Linked DNA regions of Homo sapiens: regions 1 and 3 are each linked to region 2. Evidence: fine-mapped expression QTL. A gene starts in region 2. Each other region holds a variant in brackets. All regions are shown on one strand. Distances are from middle to middle.

What was found.
Region 1: its variant is fine-mapped to the expression of SCAP in whole blood (TOPMed, PIP 0.98).
Region 3: its variant is fine-mapped to the expression of SCAP in whole blood (INTERVAL, PIP above 0.99).

The regions. Positions count from the first base shown.
Region 1 is chr3:47,269,007-47,277,181 of GRCh38, reverse strand. KIF9 (kinesin family member 9) reads left to right here. Exons shown (of 21, transcript NM_182902.4): 3 at 1,692-1,857; 4 at 3,524-3,630; 5 at 5,721-5,945. Among named protein-coding and RNA genes, the nearest start is that of KIF9, 9.7 kb to the left of the region's middle. The variant T/C (reference allele first, on the strand shown) is at 4,176.
Region 2 is chr3:47,472,609-47,480,783 of GRCh38, reverse strand. SCAP (SREBF chaperone) reads left to right here and starts at 4,843. Exons shown (of 23, transcript NM_012235.4): 1 at 4,843-4,985. It overlaps LOC105377073 (a long non-coding RNA gene), which reads right to left and starts at 4,839. Exons shown (of 3, transcript XR_940821.3): 1 at 4,420-4,839; 2 at 4,082-4,142. RefSeq lists a silencer at 4,756-5,295.
Region 3 is chr3:47,418,162-47,426,336 of GRCh38, reverse strand. It overlaps SCAP (SREBF chaperone), which reads left to right. Exons shown (of 23, transcript NM_012235.4): 7 at 168-340; 8 at 726-852; 9 at 2,292-2,404; 10 at 3,801-3,895; 11 at 5,308-5,406; 12 at 5,565-5,783; 13 at 6,633-7,009; 14 at 7,494-7,682; 15 at 7,815-8,016; 16 at 8,088-8,175. Among named protein-coding and RNA genes, the nearest start is that of PTPN23-DT, 41 kb to the right of the region's middle. RefSeq lists an enhancer at 4,776-4,825. The variant A/G (reference allele first, on the strand shown) is at 4,260.

The DNA.
Region 1 (8,175 bases), 200 kb after region 2:
ATTGGACAGGATCCAATGGACTCTAGAGCCCATCAAATCCAAACCACCCCCTCACACACTGCTAATGAAGAAATTAATAAAATCCCATCGTTAATTGTCTTTTAATAATTTTACCTTTAATAAATTAATAAGTTTACCTTTACCCTCGTATCTGACACAGAAGAATTGACATTTGTTCACATTCATAAAGCTTTCTAATGATTGATCTGTCATTGTATAATCGCCCATGGGGTGCAGTAAGAATATCTTGAGTTCATTACTGTTTAGCTTATCAAAACAGCTGGAGAAATACTTATCAAGAGAAGTGGAAAGATATATCCGTCCCTATATCCTCACCCTGAGAATGCTTCTGAAGGCTTAGGACAGTGTAAGAGTGTTAGATATTTTCATTCAGCAAACAATTATGGGCCTACTCTGGGCAGCATTGAGACATTCTTCAAAGGAAAAATTCAAGGGCAAACTGCCCAAGCCTCGCAGGTCCTAGCGGTCAGAAAAGAGCTCACATGCAGCCCTATCAAATGTGTCCTGCTGGACATGGTTTTCAGCGAACACAGAAGCACAGAGCATTTAATGTGTGAGTGGACCAAGTCTTTCTTTCTTTCTTTTCTTTTTTTTTTTTTTTTTTTGAGACAGAGTCCCACTCTGTTGCCCAGGCTGGAGTACAGTGGCACAATCTTGGCTCACTGCAACCTCCGCCTCCCAGGTTCAAGCGATCGTCCTGCCTCAGCCCTGCTAGTAGCTGGGATTACAGGCACGTGCCACCATGCCTGGCTAATTTTTGTATTTTTAGTAGAGACGGGGTTTTGCCATGTTGGCCAGGCTGGTCTGGAACTCCTGACCTCAGGTGATCTACCTGCCACGGCCTCCCAAAGTGCTGGGATTACAGGCGTGAGCCACCATGCCCGGCCAAGTCTGTCTTTCTTCATCTTAATTTTTCTCTCTGTAGCCAGGTATAGCTCCTGCATTAGGGCAGTCAGTGTAAGATTTCAGCAAGAGTCTTTACATCAGAAGTTCTCATCAAGAAGATTGGAATCTACCACTGACCTTACCCAGTATGTCCCTAAGCCAGCTGCTACTACAATGGCTTACTATGAAGGGGCATGCATCTAAAAATCTGCTGATGACACCCTCAATTTACTCTTAATTCCTATGTCTGAGAAGTCCATAGCCTTCTCTGTGGCTTTCATTTCATCATCACTCACTTTGGCTCATAGCGTGTGTGTGGAAGTAGATGTTCACCATAATGCAGAGCTGAGGGAGGCCTCACTGCCAGCAACCAGAGCAATGAGGCTGGAGCCCAGGCCTCTGTTACCAGGCTCACTATTCCCTCTGGCATAATTCAAGGCCTCCCTATGCTTATGGAATCTATCTAAAACTTGTTTAATAAGAACATGATAAATTTGACCTCATATCATAGGTGGGGAAACAAAGACAGCACCGTGTGAACTAGGGTTAGAGGTGCTAAAACTAGAAAGTGCTCCACTCTCCTGATCTTTCCATCTCCCTGCAGGAACTCTCTTCTCCCATCCCAAAGAATTCATCTGGAATATCAGCCCCTACGTGGGAGTCCCCATTCATCCTACAGTTCATTTCCTCTGTTCCCTCCAGATTAGGCCTCAGCTATCAGTGATTTTTTTTATACCCATTTTTGAACAAATAACATTTTTTTCTTTCTCACTCTTTTTTCCTAGAGCATTGATATTCACTTAAAAAAAGACATTCGGAGAGGAGTTGTCAATAACCAACAGACAGACTGGTCGTTTAAGTTGGATGGAGTTCTTCACGATGCCTCCCAGGACTTGGTTTATGAGACAGTTGCAAAGGATGTGGTTTCTCAGGCCCTCGATGGCTATAATGGTAACTTAATTAATTAAATGTTGTCTTATGTAAGAACCTGAGGAGTAAGAGATGCAAATATTTTATGGTGAATAAAATAAAAGCTCACTCACTATCATTTGTATGTTTGTCTGTCTCCATGTTCTTACGTTGCAAAACTTACTGTTTGCTTGTTGACATTGTGGGCATGGCTTGATCCAATGTCCTGGGATTCTACCTTCATAGGAAAATTAAAAGACTATGGCTCTCTATAGGTCACAGGGGTTCAATTATCCTGTTTCAAATCTCTCAAGTATTAGTTTTGAAGATACGTCTTTATGACAAATTTGATGGAGTCCAAACATTTGTCTCTCAGCTTCCTGCTAGGAGCTATTTTCATGTATTCTACCAACACAATCAATGTACAGTTGATATTCTAGTATAGGATTGTATAAAAGAATATGTCACAGTTTGTAGACTTTGCCATCTGGTGGCTGCTGACTAGGATGTTCCCTGTTTTGCAAGTTTAGGTTTTATATTTAAAAGTGCATTGAGTGTAGATGCTGTAATTTATCCTGAATGTGATACGTAGGTGTGGTCCCCACTGACTTAAGGAGGTTCTCTTTTGGTTTTCATGATGCTCTGATTGTGACCTTGAGGAGGTGAAGACAGAGGAACTAAGGCCCAGGGAGATGAATAGTCTTGAGCACTGGTGCTGTGGAACCACAAATGGGCTCTGATTTGCAGCTGAAGTGACTCCTTCCTGTTCATTTGTGTTGGGTTAATAGACACCATTTCTGGCTCCAACTCAGATGCTGAATCAGGATCGCTTGTGTAAAACCTGCCACCAGTCCCAAGAACTAGAGTGTCTGTGTGACAAAGGCAAAAAATTTTCACAGCCCAGCATTGCCTGGGCAGATCTGCCATGTAAATGCCCATGGGCAGCCTGTGGGATGGGGTCTGGCTCAGGCTGCCCATGCTAAGGGGAAGAACAGATAGGAGCCGGAGCTCAGGGTGACTGCATGGTTTGTGTCCCGGAGCCTGGTGGTGATGGTAGACCTAAAGGATGTTGAGAAGTGCAATGAAAGTCTTCCCAGGGTGGGCAGTGGACCAGATCAGGGCCTGATCATGGTGGTACATTTCTGGAAGTGACATGGAACCAACTAGGAGCCCTGTTTCATCCTGCAGGAATTTGTAGTCTACAAAGAATTCTCACCCTTGACAGAAAATGCCCTTTCCACTCCATCTCTTCCTGGAGATTTTGAAAGCCCCTCTTTGCCTCTGTGGGGAAGTTGATGCCTCCTGCCAACCCTGAGACCCTGGCAGTTCATAGCTGTGCTAGAGAAGGGCTGGAGTCTAATGCTCCTATCTCCCTCCTCATCTTTTTAGGAAAAGTTCCAGTTCCTCTGTACCCTGAGATTCCCTGTCCTTCTCAGAAGCCCTAGGGCCGGATCATCTCTTGGTGGAGGGAACAGCAGAGCATTGTGGGGACCACAGATTCAGGGCAGATGTCCTTGTTTTGACCACTTTTGTCCCTGTTCCCCTGCCCACCCATCCTCTTCCATGGTGGAATTCCTGATGTTCTTGGCTGCCCCCACTGGCCATCTTCATGCAAAGGGCCCTGGCTGGCACCAGGCATGCTGGGAGAGGGGAGAGTTATCCTTGGAGCTATTTTCCTGGATGTCACCGTGTTTTGAAATGTTTGCAGGCACCATCATGTGTTATGGGCAGACGGGAGCTGGCAAGACATACACCATGATGGGGGCAACTGAGAATTACAAGCACCGGGGGATCCTCCCTCGTGCCCTGCAGCAGGTAGAGAGTGGGCCCAAGGGTGGGATGCCACACAGGTTCCCTCTCTCTGCCATAGATGTTACTGACCCTGGGCCAGCTACTAGAGACAGTGGGGACCAGGCCTCAAAGGAGTTGCAGTGGATACTGGTACTGGAGACAACATACACAGGGCTCTGGAGTCAGTAGAGTCAGGGGCCTCAGGAAACCAGGAGGTTGGGTGTCAGACTCTGAGCCATACCCACACTGAGCCTGTTTCCTCATTTGGGAAGGAGGGAGTCAGGCATGCTAATCAGCCTCTTGCTGCTCCAGTGGTCTGTGATCCTGTAATTAAGGATTTGGAGGTCCTAATCATTCTCTTTCCTGGTTTTAATGAGGGGCATATAGACCCTTGCAGAACTTCCTTACTGGCCTACTCTGGCTTTTTTCACCACCACAGCCCCTGAAAGATCAAAAGCAAGAAGGAGGGCATGACTTGAGCTTTCAGGACTGTGTCAGCCCGGGGGGTCTCAATAGCATAACTGAAGATAAGACAGAAGGGCCTTCCTTTGGGCCCCACTAGCCTGGGT[T/C]CTGTAAGGACCCTCTGGTCGGAGGTAGGAGGCAAAAGCTGCCAAGAGGCAGCTTTACAGCCCTGTCCTATAAGAAGTGTTATAGGACAGGATTTTTTGCAGCCCTGTCCTATAAGAAGTGTATACATTCCTCTAGTATGTGAACCATCCATGCTCCTGTTTTTGGAGCAATACCCTTAATATCCCACTGTCAAAGCTTCAGTATCTCAGCATCTTAGACTTTAGTAATCTAGCCCAGTGCCACTAATAGAAATATACTGTAAGTCACATGCAAATTTGAGTTTTCCAGTAACCACATTTTAAAAAGTAAAAATAAACAGATGAAATTAATTTTAATGATATATTTTATTTAACTAAATATATTTAAAATATTTCCGCATGTAATCAATATAAACTTATTGAGATAGTTTACATTCTTTTTCTCATACTAAGTCTTTGAAATCCAGTACATATTTTATACTTGGGGCACATTTCAGTTTAGGCATAAATATTATCAGAAATGCTTGATCTGTATTTAGATTTCATAAAATGTTGAAAAAGTAGATTTACATACCCAAGTTGTTCCAGACATACTTAAAGTTTACCAATAACTGAATTGCATCAGTTTTTAAATCTAACTGTAATTAAAATTACATAAAATTTAAAATTCAGTTCATTTGTACTAGCCACATTTTAGATACTCAGCAGCCATCTGTAACTTGTGTCTACTATTTTGAACAAAACCGGTCTAAATTCTTAGAGGAAGGCAGGACCTCAGGAATTATCCCTTCCTTGATAAGCACTGGGGAGGGAATTAGGAGTTGAGAAGGCTGAGTTCTGGCTTTACTTCTACCCTTACTAGCTGAGTGACCAATAGACAAATTATTTATTTATTTATTTATTTATTTTTTAGATGGAGTCTCACTGTCACCCAGGCTGGAGTGCAGTGGCGTGATCTCATCTCACTGCAAGCTCTGCGTCCTGGGTTCAAGAGATTCTCCTGCCTCAGCCTCCCGAGTCGCTGGGACTACAGGCGCACGCCACCACGCCCAGCTAATTTGTGTAATTTTAGTAGAGACAGGGTTTCACCATGTTGGCCAGGATGGTCTCGATCTCCTGACCTCATGATCTGCCCACCTCCGCCTTCCAAAGTGCTGGGCTCACAGGTGTGAGCCACCACACCCGGCTGACAAATAATTTTATTTTGTAGTGCCTTCCACAAATACGTATTGCTCCTGCACTGCCTCATTCACAGAGATTTATATGTGGATGGAATTAAATAGATTTGAAAGAGGCATATAAATGATGAGACTCTAAAATAAGAAATCCTCACTCCAGAGTCCTTTCCACTCATTATGCCTCTACTTCGTGAGATGGTTTAAGTGTTAGCCAATCTGATGTCAAGCCTCAAAACACTACAAGATGATACTAAATATCACCCAATTCCTTTAGGACAATAATTATTCTATACATCTTGATGTTCCCTTCTGAGTTAGGAAGCCCCCCTTATGCTAGTTGGCTGTTGGGGTTCTGCTCTTGGTGACCGCTGTACAATCTGTCATCTAGGTTTTTAGGATGATCGAAGAACGCCCCACACATGCCATCACTGTGCGTGTTTCCTACTTGGAAATCTATAATGAGAGCCTGTTTGATCTCCTGTCCACTCTGCCCTATGTTGGACCCTCAGTCACACCAATGACCATCGTGGAAAACCCTCAAGGAGTCTTCATTAAGGGCTTGTCAGTTCACCTCACAAGTCAGGAGGAGGATGCATTCAGCCTCCTTTTTGAGGTGAGATAATAAAACCTGAGGGTTCCTTTCCTTCTCTCCCTCCCTGCCACCCTCCTTCTCAGCTTTTCTTTTTCTTTTTCTTTTTCTTTTTTTGAGACAGGATCTTGGTTTTTCTCCAAGTCTGGAGTATACTGGCATGAACATGGCTCACTGCAGCCTCGACCTCCTGGGCTCAAGTGATCCTCCTGCCTCAGCCTCCCAAGTAGCTGGGACCACAGGAGCATGCTACCATGCCCACTTAATTTTTTTTTTTTTTTTTTTGTAGAGACAAGGTCTGGCCATGTTGCCCAGGCTGGTCTTGAACTCTTGGGCTCAAGCGATCTTCCCACTTCGGCCTCTCAAAGTGCAGGGATTACAGGCAAGCTACTGTGTCCAGCTAGTTTTTTACTTACTTTGATTATCAGAATGGAAATTAATATATGCACATTTAGCAAGTTCAGATAGTGCTGAAAAAAAAAAGGAACAAAAAAGAATTTTATTTCCTCTTCCTTTCCTGTTACGTAAATAAAAAGAAAAAATGATTCATGCATAATCTGTTTTTTACATAAGGCAACAATAATGTATATTTTAGCTCATTTCCTTCCAGTCTTTTTTCCTGTGCAGCTTTTTCTTTACATAGTTGAAATGATTCTTATGTCCCTTTTTTCAGTTAAATTATGAGCTCTTGTATGGAAAAAAATAAGGCCGGGTGCAGTGGGTGATGCCTGTAATCCTAGCACTTTGGGAGGCTGAGGTGGGTGGATCACCTGAGATCAGGAGTTTGAGACCAGCCTGGCCAACATAGTGAAACCCCATCTCTACTAAAAATACAAAAAATAAGCTGGGTGTGGTGGCGGGTGCCTGTAATCCCAGCTACTAGGGAGGCTGAGGCAGGAGAATCACTTGAACCCGGGAGGCACTGGTTGCAGTGAGCCAAGATCGTACCATTGCACTCCAACCTGGGCAACAAGAGCAAAACTCCTTCTCAAAAAAAAAAAAGAAAAGAAAAAGAGAAAAATAAGAATTAGCATCCTTACTATACAAAAGCTCTTAGAGCCAGGTGCGGTGGCTCATGCCTGTAATCCCAGCACTTTGAGAGGCTGAGGTGGGTGGATCACCTGAGGTCAGGAGTTCGAGACCAGCTTAGCCAACATGGTGAAACCTCATCTCCACTAACAATACAAAAATTAGGCTGGGCACGGTGGCTCATGCCTGTAATCCCAACACTTTGGGAGGCGGAGGCAGGCGGATCACAAGATCAGGAGATTGAGACCATCCTGGCCAACATGGTGAAACCCCGTCTCTACTACAAATACAAAAATTAGCTGGATGTGGTGGCGCTAACTCCCAACTACTCAGGAGGCTTAGGCAGGAGAATAGCTTGAACCCGGGAGGCAGAGGTTGCAGTGAGCTGAGATTGTGCCACTGCACTCCAGCCTGGCGACAGAGGGAGACTCCATCTCAAAAAAAAAAAAAAAAAAAAAAAAAATTAGCTGGGAGTGGTGGTGGGCACCTGTAATCCCAGCTACTCGGGGGGCTGAGGCAGGAGAATTGCTTGAACCCAGGAGGCAGAGGCTGCAGTGAGCTGAGATTAAGCCATTGCACTCCAGCCTGGGCAATAGAGTAAGACTCCATCTCAAAAAAATAAAATAAAGGCTCTTAGAAACCAGTCAAATGCACTGGCACAGTGGCTCACGCCTGTAATTCCAGCACTTTGGGAGGCCAAGGCGGGTGGATCACTTGAGCTCATGAGTTCAAGACCAGCCTGGGCAACACAGTGAAACCCCACCTCTACCAAAAATACAAAAATTAGCCAGGCATGGGGGCGCATGCCTGTGGTCCCAGCTGCTTGGGAAGCTGAGGTGGGAGAATCACTTGAGCCCAGCAGGTAGAGGTTTCAGTAAGCTGAGATCATGCCACTGCACTCCAACCTGGGTAATAGAGCAACACTCTGTCTCAAAAACAAGAAAAGAAATCAGTCAAGTGTATGTTATTCTTTTAGAAGTCATATAGGCTAGGAACTCTTTATTTTTTTATGCAAGTTCTCGCTGTGTTGCCCAGGCAATGGGCACATGTGCAATGGCTATTCACAGGCATGATCATAGTGCCTTCTCACAACATAGCAACTTACTTCCTCAACGTCAATAGCAGGATCTTTTTTAAAGGGCCAGAAAGACAAGGCAAGGCCAGGCGCGGTGTCTCACACCTGTAATCCCAGAGCTTTGGGAGGCCGGGGCAGGCGGATCACTGG
Region 2 (8,175 bases):
AATCCTAGCACTTGTGGAGGCCAAGATGGGAGAGTTGCCTGAGGCCAAGAGTTCAAGACCAGCCTGGGCAACAGAGAGACCCTCATCTCTATTTAAAAAACTCTGAAATTTAGCTGGGAGTGGTCATACCCACCTGTGGTCCCAGCTACTTGGGAAGCTTGCTTGAGCCCAGGAGGTCAAGGCTGCAGTGAGCTGTGATTGTGCCACCGCATTCCAGCCTGGACCATAGAGCAATACCCTATCTCTTAAAATAAAGGATTGATACGAAATCACCTTTGCAAAATTATGGCAGTAAGAAAAACCTGACATGGTTGACTCCATGTTGCTTCCTTTTCTTTTTCTTTTTTTTCTCTCAGCGTGTTGCTCTTGTTGCCCAGGCTGGAGTGCAATGGCACGATCTCGGCTCACCACAACTTCTGCCTCCCAGGTTCAAGCTATTCTCCTGCCTCAGTCTCCTGAGTAGCTGGGATTACAGGCATGCGCCACCACACCTGGCTAATTTTGTATTTTTAGTAGAGACAGGGTTTCTCCATGTTGGTCAGGCTGGTCTCGAACTCCTGCTCAGGTGATCTGCCTGCCTCGGCCTCCCAAAATGCTGGGATTACAGGAGTGAACCACCGTGCCCAGCTCTATCTTGCTTCTAACCTCCAACCTGGGGATAGGCGAAGGTAACTTTGGGAGGAATTTATAGTTCAACCTTAAAGCAAGGATGACATTAGCCCTCTCCAAAACTAAACCGCCTTTGTAAAACTAATGAAAAGCCACAAGTCTAGGATTTTTATAGGAGGGGCCTGAATTCTGCTAAGGTGTAGGTGTAGTTAAATGATAACCAGTCATTGCTCTGGAAGTCACAAGATTTGTAACTTCCTCAGTTACTCCTATAGATAACATCACTATTGTAGAACCTAAGACTTGCCTTTTGAGATGTTTCTTTTCTTTCTTTCTTTCTTTCTTTCTTTTTTTTTTTTTTTTTTTTTTGAGACAGAGTCTCGTTCTGTTGCCCAGGCTAGAGTGCAGCGGCATGATCTCGGCTCACTGCAAGCTCCGCCTCCTGGGTTCATGCTATTCTCCTGCCTCAGCCCCCAGAGTAGCTGGGACTACAGGTGCCCGCCACCACACCCGGCTAATTTTTTGTATATTTAGTAGAGGCGGGGTTTCACCGTGTTAGCTAGGAAGGTCTCGATCTCCTGATCTCGTGATCCACCTGCCTCAGCCTCCCAAAGTGCTGGGATTACAGGCGTGAGCCACCGCGCCCGGCCTTGAGGTGTTTCTTTTCAGACTTTTGCATTTCTGCTGACTCCACCCAGAGGCTGACTCAGCGCTTGAGGACTCCTCCTATGATTGCATCCCCAACCAATCAACATTTCCCATTCCCTAGCACCCTGCCTACCAAACTATCCTTGAAAAACCCTGACCTCTAAGCCTTTGGGGAGACTGATTTGAGTAACAGCTCCATCTTCTGCGTGGCCTTGTGCATCGCCAGCCTTGCGTCAGTGAAACTCTTTACTGCAATGCCAAGGCCTCAGTGAATTGATTTTGTCTGCGCAGTGGGCAAGAAGAACCCTTGGGCAATTACAGATAGATGAATAAAAGGATAGATTTTTTTAGATAGACATGAGATACTAAGCAAAACATTAATAGTTGAATCTAGGGTATATGAGTGTTCACTCTATGGTTCTTTCAACTTTTCTGTTATGTTTTCATATTAAATGTTGTAGGAGGCTGGGCATGGTGGGTCATACCTGTAATCCCGGGATTACAGCGGGTGGATCGATTGGGCCCAGGAGTTCGAGACCAGCCTGGGCAACATGGCAAAAACCTCGTCTCTACTAAAAATACAAAAATAAACCTGGCGCGATGGCGCAAGCCTGTAGTCCCAGCTACTCAAGAGGTTGAGGCACGGGAATCGCTGGAACCTGAGAGGTGGAGGTTGCAGTGAGCCAAGATTGTGCCACTGTGCTCCAGCCTGGGTGACAGAGACTTGGTCTCAAAAAAAAAAAAAAAAGGGCCAGGTGAGGTGGCTCACGCCCGTAATCCCAGCACTTTGAGAGGCTGAGGCGGGTGGATCCCACCTGAGATCAGGAGTTTGAGACAGCCTGGCCAACATGGCGAAACTCTGTCTCTACTAAAAATGCAAAAAAAAATTAGCCAGGCATGGTGGCGCACACCTATAATCCCAGCTACTCAGGAGGCTGAGGTGGGAGAATCACTTGAACCTGGGAGGGGGAGGTTGCTGTGAGCCAACACCTCACCACTGCACTCCAGCCTGGACAACAGAATGAGACTGTGTCTCAAAAAAAAAAAATGTTGTGGGAGAAGCCCAAAAATCATGTCCACTTCATTATATTCCATGGGGGGCATTCTGTAGCAGATTTACCAGGGCCCCATAAACCCCAGCTTCCCCAGAGGCTCCACAGGATTCTCAGTGGGTTCTCTTAGGGCAGTGGAGGATTGTTTGCCATGCTTCAAGGCACAAAGGTACTTAGCTAGGTGCTTGTCAGTTTTGGAGCCTCTTATTTTTTGTGGGGGAGTGTCCAGACTTCACTGAGGGTCAGTCCTCTGCAAACACAGCTTTGATGGAGTGGTTGGGTGGGAAGAGGTGGTGAGTGAGGAGAATGACAGCAGTTCCCAAGGCAGTCTGGCTAAGTCCTGCCATGGAGGTGGTTAAAAGACAGGCTCCTGACCCTCTCTGGAGAGAAGACTTTGGTACAGTGGGCCCAGGGCTCAGGAGGACTCCTTCATGCCCAAGGTTTCTGAGGGGACAAATGATGGTATTTCAAGGGATCAGACCTGGAGAGAGTGATGTCAGGATAGGTAAGGGGTGTAGGTAAGTTCCCCTGAATGCTCTCTATTGTTGCTTCTCTCTCATTTAATACAACAAACAGGATGGGCACGGTGGCTCATGCCTGTAATCCTAGCAGTTTGGGAGGCCAACATGGGAAGGCTGCTTGAGCCCAGGAGTTTGAGACCAGCCTGGGCAACACAGCAAAAGACCCCATCTTGATAAAAATAACAAAAACAAAAATGGCATGGTGGCGCTCATCTGTAGTCCTACCTTCTTGGGAGGATCACTTGAGCCCAGGAGGTTGAGGCTGCAGTGAGCTATGACCACACCACTGCACTCCAGCCTGGGTAAAGGAGTGAGACCTCAAATGTAAAAATAAAAATAACCTAAAAAATTCTTTCTTTCTTTTTTTTTTTCTTTTTTTTTTTGAGACGGAGTCTCGCTCTGTCGCCCAAGCTGGAGTGCAGTGGCATGATCTCGGCTCACTGCAAGCTCTGCCCCCCGGGTTCATGCCATTCTCCTGCTTCAGCCTCCCGAGTAGCTGGGACTACAGGCACCTGCCACCACGCCCGGCTAATTTTTTTTTTGTTTGTTTTGTATTTTTAGTAGAGATGGGGTTCCACCGTGTTAGCCAGGATGGTTTCGATCTCCTGACCTCATGATCTGCCCGTGTTGGCCTCCCAAAGTGCTGGGATTACAGGCGTGAGCCACCGCGCCCAGCGAATACTTTCTTTATAGGATCAAAATTCCCATATTAAGCCAAAAGACAATGCTGAAAATGTCATAACCCTGAAAGTCACTTTGGGCCAAGGCCCACTGTCCCCATTGTTACTTTCATTGTGACAATAGTGTGGTGGGCAAGGAGGGAGGCCAGAGTCCGGTGGGAACTGGGTTTTAGGAGGAGGTATCTGAAGAATGTGTAGTGGGTCGGGGGCTGGTGCGGTCAGAAGGGCCACCTCTAATTTCTGCCTTGCATTGGTGACTAGATCTGCACTTTCTGGAACTCCCAGAGAAGTTTGCTGGTGCCTTTGAGGGCAGGTACAGGGCCTGCCTTATCCAGGTAGCCCTGGGGTGGGTGCGGGTGTCTCGGGCAGTAGGCAGGGGCTGAGGGGAGGCTTACCTCTGACACAAGACCTGGGTACAGCAAGGGCATGCAGTAGCATGATCAAAGTCCCCCCAGAGTGGTCCGGGCAGCGTCTCTAGTTGGGCCAGAGCTGGGCAGGTGGGGACCTGTGTTTCCCTCGAGGGGAGGCAGCCTCCCCTTCCCCTTCTGTGAGGCCCTGTAACAAGACCTACCTCGGATTTTCAGGAGGGCCAAATGCGAGGACATGTACAATACCAGCTCCGCAACTGACACCTAGTAAACAGTGAACGTAGCTGTTGCTATTATAACAAATACCTGTTCCCTGTGGAAAATGGTTAAATGTCAACTTATGCTTTTAAATGTCTATAGGGAAACTAGTTTTATGGACATTATTTATTCTTCTCATCTGCATTTGCAGTGTATCTCGGCCCAGCTGCTTCTAATTTTTTGCCATTATAAAACAGGGAACATGAGCATCTTGTGCAGGGTGGGTTTTTTGTTTTTTGTCTCACTGTGGCCTCGACCTCCCGGGCTCAGGTGATCCTCCTACCTCAGCCTCCTGAGTAGCTGGGACCACAGGTGCGCGCCACCACAGCCGGCTAATTAATTTTACTTGTGGAGACGGAGGTCTCCTACGTTGCCCAAGTTGGTCTCTAACTCCTCGGCTCAAGCGATCTTCGCGCCTTGGACTCCCACAGTGTTGGGATTACAACCGCGAGCCACCGTGCCCGGCTTTCTGCAAGTTCTTGATGACCGATGAGAGCCGGTGGGCCCAAACCCGGCGGGCCCTAACCCGGCTTCACGCTCCGCCCGGCCCGGCCCGGCCCGGCCGTCCATACTTCCCTCCGGTGTCCACCAGAGGGCGAACGGGAGACGCGAATGTGGTTCGACTACGCATGCGCACGCCGCTGGGCGCACGTGCGGAGGGCGGCGGGGCGGGAGGGTAAAGGTAGGAGGTGAGAGGTGAAGGGGCGGGCACCCGGCGGCCAGGAGAGAGAGGGAGGGCGCCACGCACCGGACTGCGGGCCGAGAGCGCGCACGCCGCGCTCCGCCCCTGCTGCCGCCCCCGTCGCCGCCGCCGCCGCCGCCGCAGCTTGGGAGGTGCTGCCACCACAGGTACCGTCACGCGGGTGCTCAGGGCGCCTGCCCGCGGGCCCCAGCTCGACCCCAGCCGCGTGGAGCTGGGAGTTCCGGAATGGGGGCCGCTAGGTTCGGGGGTGCGTGGGCATGGCGCTGTCCAGCAGCCGTGCGGGCCGGCCCTGGAGACCGCAGGCCGGCAAGGAGGCAGGGCCGCGCGTCCCCACCCCCAACCCGGCCGTGTCCCTGCACCGGCCGGCCCCTGGAGCTCCGCGTCCCCACCAGACCTCCGCGGGCCCCTGGTGTGACGGGGGGAGATGCGCGGCGTCGCATCCCCTGGCCTAGTTGCTCCGGGAAGCTGTTGTAGAACCTGCTTTGGTGCTGTTTGGGTTTTCCGGAGTGCGGGGGAGAGCAGGTTCTCCACTTTGCCTCTTTTGGAAGATCTTATTGAGAGACAACGCTAGTTGCTTTGCTGGTTTTGCTTGGTTTCTAGTTTTCCGTATTGCTTAAACCTCAACTTTGCTCACTAATGTTGCTTCTGTTTACTTCTGAGTGGGTTTATGACCTCAGTATTTAACCGGCTTATAATGTCACGATAGCGTTAGTTGCAGGGAGCCCTGGCTCCGGACTGTTTGAATCACAGAAAGTTGTGCAGATGGGAATGCGGAGGGGGGGGCAGTGAGTCGCTGTGGGGGCTCTGGCAGGGGTCAGCCCCTGGTTCGGGTCACTCACTGCTCCACCTTGTATGGCGACAGTCGGAGCTAGGTGAATAAACTCTTTCTGGGGATTTTGTAATACTTATCGTGAAGCGGCCATAGAAAAGGTTTAATGTTAGCGTTGCGTGTGTTTCTTTTATTTGGCCAAAAATTTGTGGAGTTTGGTTATGCCGTGTCTTTATTGGTTTGCTGTCAGGTCAGGATATTGAGCAAAAGACTGACGCTTTTATTAGGGAGTCAGGGTCGAGGGTGTCTAGTTAGTGCTGTATCCATTTTAGGTGTTCCTCAGTGATGCCTAAAGACTTGTTTTTTGTTTGTTTGTTTGGAGACAGGGTCTCACTCTGTCTCCCAGGCTGGAGTGCAGTGGCGCGATCTCGGCTCACTGCAGCCTTGATTTCCTGGGCTCAGGTGATCCTCCCACCTCAGCCTCCCCAGTAGCTGGGACAGCAGGTGTGTGCCACCACGCCCGGCTAATTTTTGTATTTTTTTGTAGAGATGGGGGTCTTGCTGTGTTGCCCAGGCTGGTCTTTAACTCCTGGGCTCAAGCATTATACAAGCCTTGGCCTCCCAAAGTGTTGGTATTACAGGCGTGAACCACCGTGCCCGGCCAAGACCTGTATCTTTTAAAATGTGTGTTAATATAGTTTACATTTTAGGTGTTTTACACATTTGCAGTATTCCCACTGAGCACATGATGTAAAAAACACTATATAAATATATTTAACACTGTATAAATATATTTCCATATTTATTCTTTTGGTCATAAATTGAAATGGAAAGAATTAGGCTTTTTAAATTTATTATGAACTGATCTGATGTTTGAATGCTCTCTCTTTTCTTTCTTTCTTTTTTTTTTTGAGATGGAGTCTCGCTCTGTCGCCCAGGCTGGAGTGCAGTGGCGCCATCTCGGCTCACTGCACCCTCCGCCTGCCGGGTTCAAGCGATTCTCCTGCCTCAGCCTCCCAAGTAGCTGGGACTACAGGCGCCCGCCACCATGCCCGGCTACTTTTTTGTATTTTTAGTAGAGACGGGGTTTCACCGTGTTAGCCAGGATCGTCTCTATCTCCTGACCTCATGATCCGTCCGCTTCGGCCTCCCAAAGTGCTGGGATTACAGGCGTGAGCCACCGCGCCTGGCTTGAATGCTCTCTCTTTTCTTTTGCTGTTGCGGCAAAAACGCCCCCTCTCTAGAGATCTCCGTGGACTTTATAATCACTGGTTTGGGGCCCTTCCCCCGTTCCCTCAGTCACTGTCATTAGGTGGGTAAAAAGTTTACTACAAGTTTATTACTAGAAAAATGGAGGCATATGCGATTCAGGAATTAAATAAACTAAAAAAGGAAAGAAAAAGTGTGCCTGTGGGCTTCACTGCAGGTATGTATATTAACATTTGGTGGTAGACTTTAGGGATGTTTTCTCTCTCAGAATCTAGCCATGCATGTGAATGTGCCTCAGGGATCCTGGAATGACAGGTTCATGTGCTGTTTGCTTACTCTCACCATTGGTGGTTGCCAGTGTTTTACCGGCTCTGACAGGTACTTCATATACAGTTTGTGTCATCACCCCCGTTGAACAGATGAGAGGACTCCTCATAGAGAAGCTGGGTTCTTACAAGGTCACCCAGCTTGTCAAGGGTGGATCATCCTTCAAACCAGGTCTGCCACACCTCTGCCACCTGAGCTCCTTCCGTTAGAACTTGCTACCTTACTGAGTTGGCTAAAGAAACAAGGTTCAGGTGTCGTCTTTTGCCACTCAGAGTAATAATTCTGGGTGATATCGAGCACTTGTGCTGTTTAGGCAGTGTCCTAGGTACTGTAATATTAGCTTATCTCACTTAGTTTTCATAATAACCAGGTGAGATAACACTGTTATCACCCCCTTTACGGAGAGTTTTAGAAAAGTTATTTGACTGGCCCTGGGTCACCTAGCGAATTTGAGACGGAGTGTGTTGTGTGCAAACTGAGATTTGGCTGACAAAAGAGTCCATCCTTTTATGCTGTTCTTGTACCTGCTTCCACAGTCTGTTTTTTTTTTTTTTTTTTTGAGATGGAGTTTCGCTCTTCTTGCCCAGGCTGGAGTGCAATGGCGTGATCTCAGCTCACTGCAACCTCCGCCTCCCAGGTTCAAGCGATTCTCCTGCCTCAGCCTCCTGAGTAGCTGGGATTACAGGCATGCACTACCACGCCTGGCTAATTTTGTATTTTTAGTAGAGGCGAGGTTTCTCCCTATTGGTCAGGCTGGTCTCAGACTCCCGATCTCAGGTGATCCGCCCGCCTCGGCCTCCCAAAGTGCTGGGATTACAGGCGTGAGCCACTGCACGCAGCCCACAGTCTTTTCTGTTGCTCATTGGCAGGTAAGGGTAGTGGAAGAAGGTGGTAGGGGTGGTGGGAGGAAGCCAGCGTCACTGACTCTAGTGTGGGGATGGTGGAACTCAGCAAGAAGGTGACAGCAATTTGACCACTGCCATTTGACAGTTTCTGCTTAAGCAGTCAAGGGCACTAACCTAGAATGGTTG
Region 3 (8,175 bases), 54 kb after region 2:
TTCCCAGTGCCCCTGGAGACTATAGAGAAGCTCAGGCACCATAGAGAAGTTCCCTTTCAACACAGGGGCAGGAGGGAGGTCCTGATGGACCCTCTGTCCGGGGATTGTCTTTGTCCCCAGAACCAAGAGCAACACTTCCATTTACCCCCACCCTGCTCCTTGACCAGGTTCCTGGGCAGCCTGCGTGCCCGCCTGATGCTTCTGCACCCCAGCCCCAACTGCAGCCTTCGGGCGGAGAGCCTGGTCCACGTGCACTTCAAGGAGGAGATTGGTGTCGCTGAGCTCATCCCCCTTGTGACCACCTACATCATCTTGTTTGCCTACATCTACTTCTCCACGCGTAGGTTCATGGCAGGGAGGCTGAGGGCTTTCTCCAAGCTAAACGGGCATTTCCATGTCACCTGCTTCCCTGGCTCTGGAGGTGGCTTGGGGTAGAGAGATAGAACACACCTGGTGGTCATCAGAGCTAGGGCTTTGTCCCCCAGCAGGGTCTTAGGAGCTTGGGTGGGGCCGGGGCTCTTCCCACTTTCAGCCCCTTCCTGGGTTAGGGTTCCTAAAAGGTGTACTGTGTCCATGACACTGGGAAGTGCTTGTGCCTGTCCCTTTCCTTTGGTGAAACCAGGAGTTTTCCCTTCCTCGACTGTCAGGGCAACCTACTCCCGGGAGCCCCAGTGGGCCGGGGGCTGGGGGAGGGGCCGCCCTGATACGCCCTCTCTGCCCTCCAGGGAAGATCGACATGGTCAAGTCCAAGTGGGGGCTGGCCCTGGCTGCCGTGGTCACAGTGCTCAGCTCGCTGCTCATGTCTGTGGGACTCTGCACACTCTTCGGCCTGACGCCCACCCTCAATGGCGGGTAGGTCCCTAGCAGGCTCCACTGGGCCACAGGGTGGGCTCAGGCCAGAGAGCCTTGCACTTCTGGGTTCTTGGCCTTCCCTGGACTTTGCTGTGACCTCACGTCTTCACATTGTTGTTTTTGACATTTAAGAGGTACATTTTCTTCCTCTTCTTTGTCTGGCTTGTATTCATACTTGTGTTTGTATATAGCATATCTAGCTATAGTGAGTGTCCATATGTACAAAAGTGCATATTTGTGGGCTGGGTGTGTATATAAGGGGTGTGTGTTGGTATGTTTGTGTATACATGAGTATGTATTGCATGTGTGTAGTCGGATTTGTGTGTCTGTGTTTATGTATTCTATATACACACACCACACACACACTGCAGCTTGATGGCTTAAGCCACTGGAGGTGTGAGATAGAGAAGAGAACATTTTTTTTTTCATGATTAGAACATTTAAATGCCTAATGAAATAGGTCATTTTAGAGGAAGCTCTTTGGAAGATATGAGCACACTGTAATTTGTCGCCTTTTTCACTGATGTTTACTTTCCCCTTGCCACTCCTCTCTGAACCTTAGTCTGGAAGCCCTTCCCTCGGCTTGTCCTCAGGCTTTGATCTTGGCTCTGGCTAGGCCCGCCTGCCTGTCTATTAATGGTTATTAATGGATTATGGATTGGCCTGTCCACCACTTTGGCCCATCAGGCTGGTCGTATGAAAAGCGACGTCGTATTTTGTTTCTGGTAGTTTCGTTGCTCTTAGATACCTGCTCCCTTTCCTGAGCTTGACACTGTTAAACACCACCCTCCCCCATACCGTCTGCCATACCCTTCACAGGGCCCTCCCTTCCTTCGGCTCCAAAGCAGAGGTCCTGCAAGGTATAACTTGGCTGGCGTTCCTCGCACATAGACTTTCTTAGGGTTTGCTGCGGGGAGTGTGGGACAGTGGGCTCAGATAGCTGGTAGAGCTTTGTGTAGGAACAGTCGTTCTTCTCCACACACAGCTTCTCAACAAAGGTGAGTGGGCCTTCAGGATGGTTTCATCTCCTTGCATTTAGCTGTGATGGGTCCACCCAGAGTTACTGGTGTGGGTCTTGGCAGCAGTCATTGTCTTTAGCCAGCAGTCTTCTCCTGGGAAGGGCCAGCAGAAGTGTGGTCTAGCAGTGGCGCTGCACAGCTCTCCCTGAGGGGCCTCTTCCAGCCCTCCTGTGCTGGATGGCTAGAGACAGGATGGCTGCTGGCCCCTCTGCAAGGCTCTGGAGCCTGCCTGAAAGCTGAGTGCTGTGTAGATGCAGGTCTTGTTGGGTGAGGTGGACAAGGGAGGGTTTCTGCCCAGCACCTGTGGGAGTCACTCAGCAGCCCCCATGACAGGCTGGAAACCCCACAGCCTTCCTGAGGGCCCCAGTCTGTTGGGAACCACCACAACACTGTCCTCACCTTCTCCTTCTCTGTCCCCAGCGAGATTTTCCCCTACCTTGTGGTGGTTATTGGGTTAGAGAATGTGTTGGTGCTCACCAAGTCTGTGGTCTCAACCCCGGTAGACCTGGAGGTGAAGCTGCGGATCGCCCAAGGTAACGCAGTGGGAGAGTTGGGCAGAGGGCTGCAGGAGGGGCTGGAATGGGGCCTGTTCCTCTTGCTGTTAACGCTCTGTGAGCAAACAGAGCCCTTGAAATGTCCCTTGCTCTTGCCTCCGGCATAATATGCAGTGGGCCACTGGGCCCTGGCAGCTCTTGAGTGTGTGCCCTGGGGAGCCATGGGGCCATTGGACTGTACTTCGTCCTGGTTCATGTGTCAGTAAGAAAGTAAACCAGGCTGGGTGCCATGGCTCACACCTGTAATCCCAGCACTTTGGGAGGCTGAGGCAGGTGGATCACTTGAGCCCAGGAGTTCAAGACCAGCCTGGGCAACATGGTGAAACCCCATGTCTACAAAAGATAGAAAAATTAGCAGGGCATATTGGCATGCACCTGTGGTCCCACCTACTCAAGAGGCTGAGGTGGGAGGATTGCTTGAGCCTGGGAGGTCAAAGCTGCAGTGAGCCGTGATCACACCACTGCACTTCAGTGTGGGTGGGGCTTGTGTTTGGTGGTGGCTTTCTGTCTGGGGAGTTTAGCGCCTAGTATTTTCTCTTACTGCCTCACTCCAGCACACTAGGCCCAAGCCCCGGGGGCTGGCCATTTCAGAGACGCTGCCTTCACGGCTGCCAGAAAAGCTCCCTCTGGCCCTGCTGGTAGAAACTGGGGATCTGGGGTTCTAGGGAAAATGAGAAAAGGGAGAGCCTGGCCTTGGAGGCCTGGTCACTTGAGCCTCTTCTTCCTCGTCACCCCATGTCTGTGAGGAATGGGGCTGTAGGCAGCCGTCCATTCATCCAGACCTCTGTGAGCCTCTGTGATAAGCCAGGCCCTGTGCTGGATATGGAGTTAGGAAGAGATGGGGCGAAATTGTCCTTACCCAGTAAGAGCACAGAGCCTTAGACATGCGACAGTGTGATAGCGTGGGATCAGGGCTCACTACAGGAAGGGGCTTGAGGAAGAACGCAGCCAGGTCCTCTACCCGCCGAGTGCTTCTGCCATGTGGTTGATGGGCACACTGTCATGCTGGCCCGTGCAGACCAGACAAGAACCACATGCGGAGGTTGGATGTGGTTGTTGTGGGTGGCACTTGGCTTTCCTTGTGGATTTTCTCATCTCCACACTCTGCTTCTTCCCTCTTTTGATGATTATAGCTCTCCTCTGCACCCTCCAGGCTGTGAACACCCGTTCCCCGTAGCAGCTGTGTGGTGGTGATGGCCCCTTAAAGTCTGGGCATTAGCAGGACCCTGAGGGTTGGGGTGCTTTGGTGGAATGGCTCCTTCAAAGGGCTGGGGGGCCTTGCCATGCCTCTGCCACTCCGAGGCCCATGAGGTTGTGTGAGTCATGTCGCAGAGTGGCCATGTGTTGCCCTGTGCCCTGTTGCTGCCCTCTGCAGGCCTAAGCAGCGAGAGCTGGTCCATCATGAAGAACATGGCCACGGAGCTGGGCATCATCCTCATCGGCTACTTCACCCTAGTGCCCGCCATCCAGGTAAGGCCCCAAGGCCTGCCACCTGGATGAGCATGGAAGCAACTGCTGTGCTCCCCAGCTGTGCAGCCATGGGCAGGGTGCTCCCCTCTTCAGCACAGGCATCCTTGCTTCTGAGGTGGGACCTCTTTGCCTGGCAAGCAGATCACTACAGCACCCAGATGGCCCCTGGCATGCCTGGCTCAGAAGTGCTCAGCAAACCCTGGCTGGGTTCCCAGATTGAGCACCTAGCCAGGCAGACTCTGCCCTTGACCCTGTCTTCCTACCCCTCCCTGCCTGCTTCCCTTTCAGCCAAGTGGCAGGAGGAGGCTGCAAGGGCATGGCAGGAGCTGGGGACTGGCTGTGCAGTTTGTCACACCTGTTTCCC[A/G]TTTTTGAGGGAGAAGCACCGTGGGGTTCCTAGACCCTTCCTCCGGTCTCCTCCCTTGGCCCTGGCCTGTGCCGCAGTCGCCAGACGCATGGCCTTGCCTGGCCTGACCAGTGGGAGGGCCACCACCCATTGCCCAGAGTGACCCTGCTCTTGGCAAAGTGCCCTCACTCAGCTGTGGGCTGTGAGCAGAGGTGGAGGTGGCCCTGCACTGAGCTGGAACCCCAGACTGATGCCAGCCATTCCAGAAGGAGTTGCAGGAAGGGGAGGATGCCATCTTTTCTCGCCCGTCTTTCCCCCAGGGCTGGCAGGCCAGCTGAGGGATGGGGGTGAGCAGAGAACAGATGGGCTGTGGGCTGCTTCTCCTGGAAAAACAGTAGTATCTGCAGGATAGGGTACAGTCTTGGGACGTTAGAGCTGAGACAACCACTGTGCCACTATCTGCACTCCATGGTCTTACCCCAGATCGGAGTAGCACTGTGGTGATGTGCTAGAGGTCTCAACACCGACATCTCAGAAAATTTTGTCTGCTGACAGAGCTTGGGGAGCAGAGAGCTCACCCTTTTTCAGTTTTAGAGAATTAATCCCTCTCTCTCTCTCTTCATTGTTCCGGGGCAGTTGCTGGCTGGGAACCTTTCTGAGAGCCCCTGAATCAGGCCTGGGCTCTAGCTGGGTTGGTGATGCATGAGCAGGGCGGGGGCTCAGTGGGGAAGGACTTTTTGGGGAGCAGGCTGGTGGGGCTTAGAGGTTTCCGGGTTGGATCAGGCCTTCAGTCCCCTCTAGAGGGACCGGAAGATTCAGGGAAGGTACTTCCCCTTCCCTTTCAGCCCTTTCTGAAGAAAGTGTGAGGGTTTCTTCTGCCCCCTGGTGGAGACGGGGTGAGCTGCTGCTGGTATGTGAGCTGAGGACCAACCAGCATCTCTCATCTCTGCTGTGCCCTGCCTGCTGCTGCCCTGCCGGTTATGAGGTGGCTGCAGTCCGGGTACTGCTCCTCTTGGGCTGGGACAGTGAGGTCACGGCACCCCCCCATCCCCATGTGCTCTGATTCCAGGAGTTCTGTCTCTTTGCTGTCGTGGGGCTGGTGTCTGACTTCTTCCTTCAGATGCTGTTTTTCACCACTGTCCTGTCCATTGACATTCGCCGGATGGAGGTAGGAGTGGGCTGAGCCCTGCCCTGCCCGCCTCCTCAGCCCTGGCTGTACTGAGGGAGTCCTGGGTGAGAAGGGTGTAGACCTCGGGCAGGACAGCGGTCCTGTGCGAGCAGCCTCTGGATGGTGGACTCAGGCCCTGACCACTGTGCCCCCAACAGCTAGCAGACCTGAACAAGCGACTGCCCCCTGAGGCCTGCCTGCCCTCAGCCAAGCCAGTGGGACAGCCAACGCGCTACGAGCGGCAGCTGGCTGTGAGGCCGTCCACACCCCACACCATCACGTTGCAGCCGTCTTCCTTCCGAAACCTGCGGCTCCCCAAGAGGCTGCGTGTTGTCTACTTCCTGGCCCGCACCCGCCTGGCACAGCGCCTCATCATGGTACCTGCCACCCCTGCCCTGCCCTGCCCTCTTCTGGAGGGCCGGTGCTCCAGGCCCCTTGTGGTGCTGCACTTGGCCTTAGAGTGGCAAAGGGTATTCCTCAGGCCCTGGTGGCCCCTGGAAGCCTGGCTCTGGGGAGTTGCCCGTTGTGTCCTCCCTGCCCAGACCCTAGTGGCTTCTGAGGAGATAAGCCTGTGGGAGAAGCAGCTCCAGGGTTCTCAGGTACAGGAGCCATCCTCTCCCCAGAGTGGCCCAGGACAGGAGCCTGTTAGTTGAGTGCTCTGGGATGGACCCACTTGTGGCCACCACATTGCCCTGGGTCGGGTTCATCGGCCGCTGCATGGTGTGCAGACACTGGAAAGTGCTGGGCAAAATCATTCACCAGCCGGGCTGGGCTGGCCTTGGGGCAGCAGTGCCTCTTCCAGGGAGCTGAACTGAGATGGGAGGAAGGCTGAGGCCCCCTGGGACTAGGACCTCTGGGGGACTCTGGAGCAGGTCAGGTTGCTGGCCCTCTGACCGTAGGAATGGTAGCAGCTTTCTGGCTCCAGCTGAGGTGGAGCTTAGGGGTGGGGACATTCTGTGTCAAACCTCAGGGTGCTTCAGTGTATTTCCAGGCCAAGAAACTCAGCCCCTAACTGTGGAAAGGCAAGCAGGCCCCTCCAGCAGCAAGTGTTGGCAGGTGTTAGCAGGAGGACTTGGAGAGGCAGGAGAAAAGGACGCAGTGGGGCCTGTGTCCTCTCTCCATCCCCAGGCCTGAGGTCCCTGTGCTGCTTCCTCTCAGCATGAGGGCTGAAGCTGCTGGGGGTTGGGGCCCATTCCTCCCACTGAGTACCCCCTGCCCCACTGCAGGCTGGCACCGTTGTCTGGATTGGCATCCTGGTATACACAGACCCAGCAGGGCTGCGCAACTACCTCGCTGCCCAGGTGACGGAACAGAGCCCATTGGGTGAGGGAGCCCTGGCTCCCATGCCCGTGCCTAGTGGCATGCTGCCCCCCAGCCACCCGGACCCTGCCTTCTCCATCTTCCCACCTGATGCCCCTAAGCTACCTGAGAACCAGACGTCGCCAGGCGAGTCACCTGAGCGTGGAGGTCCAGCAGAGGTTGTCCATGACAGCCCAGTCCCAGAGGTAACCTGGGGGCCTGAGGATGAGGAACTTTGGAGGAAATTGTCCTTCCGCCACTGGCCGACGCTCTTCAGCTATTACAACATCACACTGGCCAAGAGGTGAGCTGGGCCGTGCCAGGTGCCACCTCACTCGATGGTGTCAACTCACCATCCCCTTTCCCCAATGCAGGAGGCCCACAGGTTTGAATTATGCAAATAATTAAAACAGTTCATAAGGTTGTGAGGTGGGAACTGGTGGTTTAGGCAGCTATAACCCAAGAGAGGAGTCCCAGGTTGCTCTGAGGAGTCACTGGTGGCTGCCAGCCCTCACCAGAATGAGACCCACCCACCTGTGCCAGGAGTGGGGAGGGAGATACCCCACACGGCCACCAGGGCTGTTTGGGTGCTGGTATCTGGGACAGCAAGTTGGCTGCTAAGCTGGGCTGGGGAGGGACCTACCTCTGTCCCCAACCCCCCATGCTGGGAGAGTCTGGCCGGTGGAGCTGAGGCCTGCCTGGGGAGGAGGGAGAGGACTGGCTGGCGAGCACAGCAGGAGGAAGCCCTGGGAGGCCCCCCGCTGAGGCTGCCCACTGTCCGAATCCAGGTACATCAGCCTGCTGCCCGTCATCCCAGTCACGCTCCGCCTGAACCCGAGGGAGGCTCTGGAGGGCCGGCACCCTCAGGACGGCCGCAGTGCCTGGCCCCCACCGGGGCCCATACCTGCTGGGCACTGGGAAGCAGGACCCAAGGGCCCAGGTGGGGTGCAGGCCCATGGAGACGTCACGCTGTACAAGTAAGGCTGCTGGGTGGGGTGGGGTGGGAAAGAGTGCGGGGAGGGGGACGGGTAGGCAAGAGTAGGGGAGAGGGAGGAGGGGAGGGGACAGGCTGTGAGGTGTGTCTCACAGCAGTCCGCCCTCCCGTGCAGGGTGGCGGCGCTGGGCCTGGCCACCGGCATCGTCTTGGTGCTGCTGCTGCTCTGCCTCTACCGCGTGCTATGCCCGCGCAACTACGGGCAGCTGGGTGGTGGGCCCGGGCGGCGGAGGCGCGGGGAGCTGCCCTGCGACGACTACGGCTATGCGCCACCCGAGACGGAGATCGTGCCGCTTGTGCTGCGCGGCCACCTCATGGTGAGCAGGGGCACAGTGGCCGGGTAGGGGAGGGCCGGAGCCTGGCCCATACCAACACCGGGCTTCTGCAGGACATCGAGTGCCTGGCCAGCGACGGCATGCTGCTGGTGAGCTGCTGCCTGGCAGGCCACGTCTGCGTGTGGGACGCGCAGACCGGGG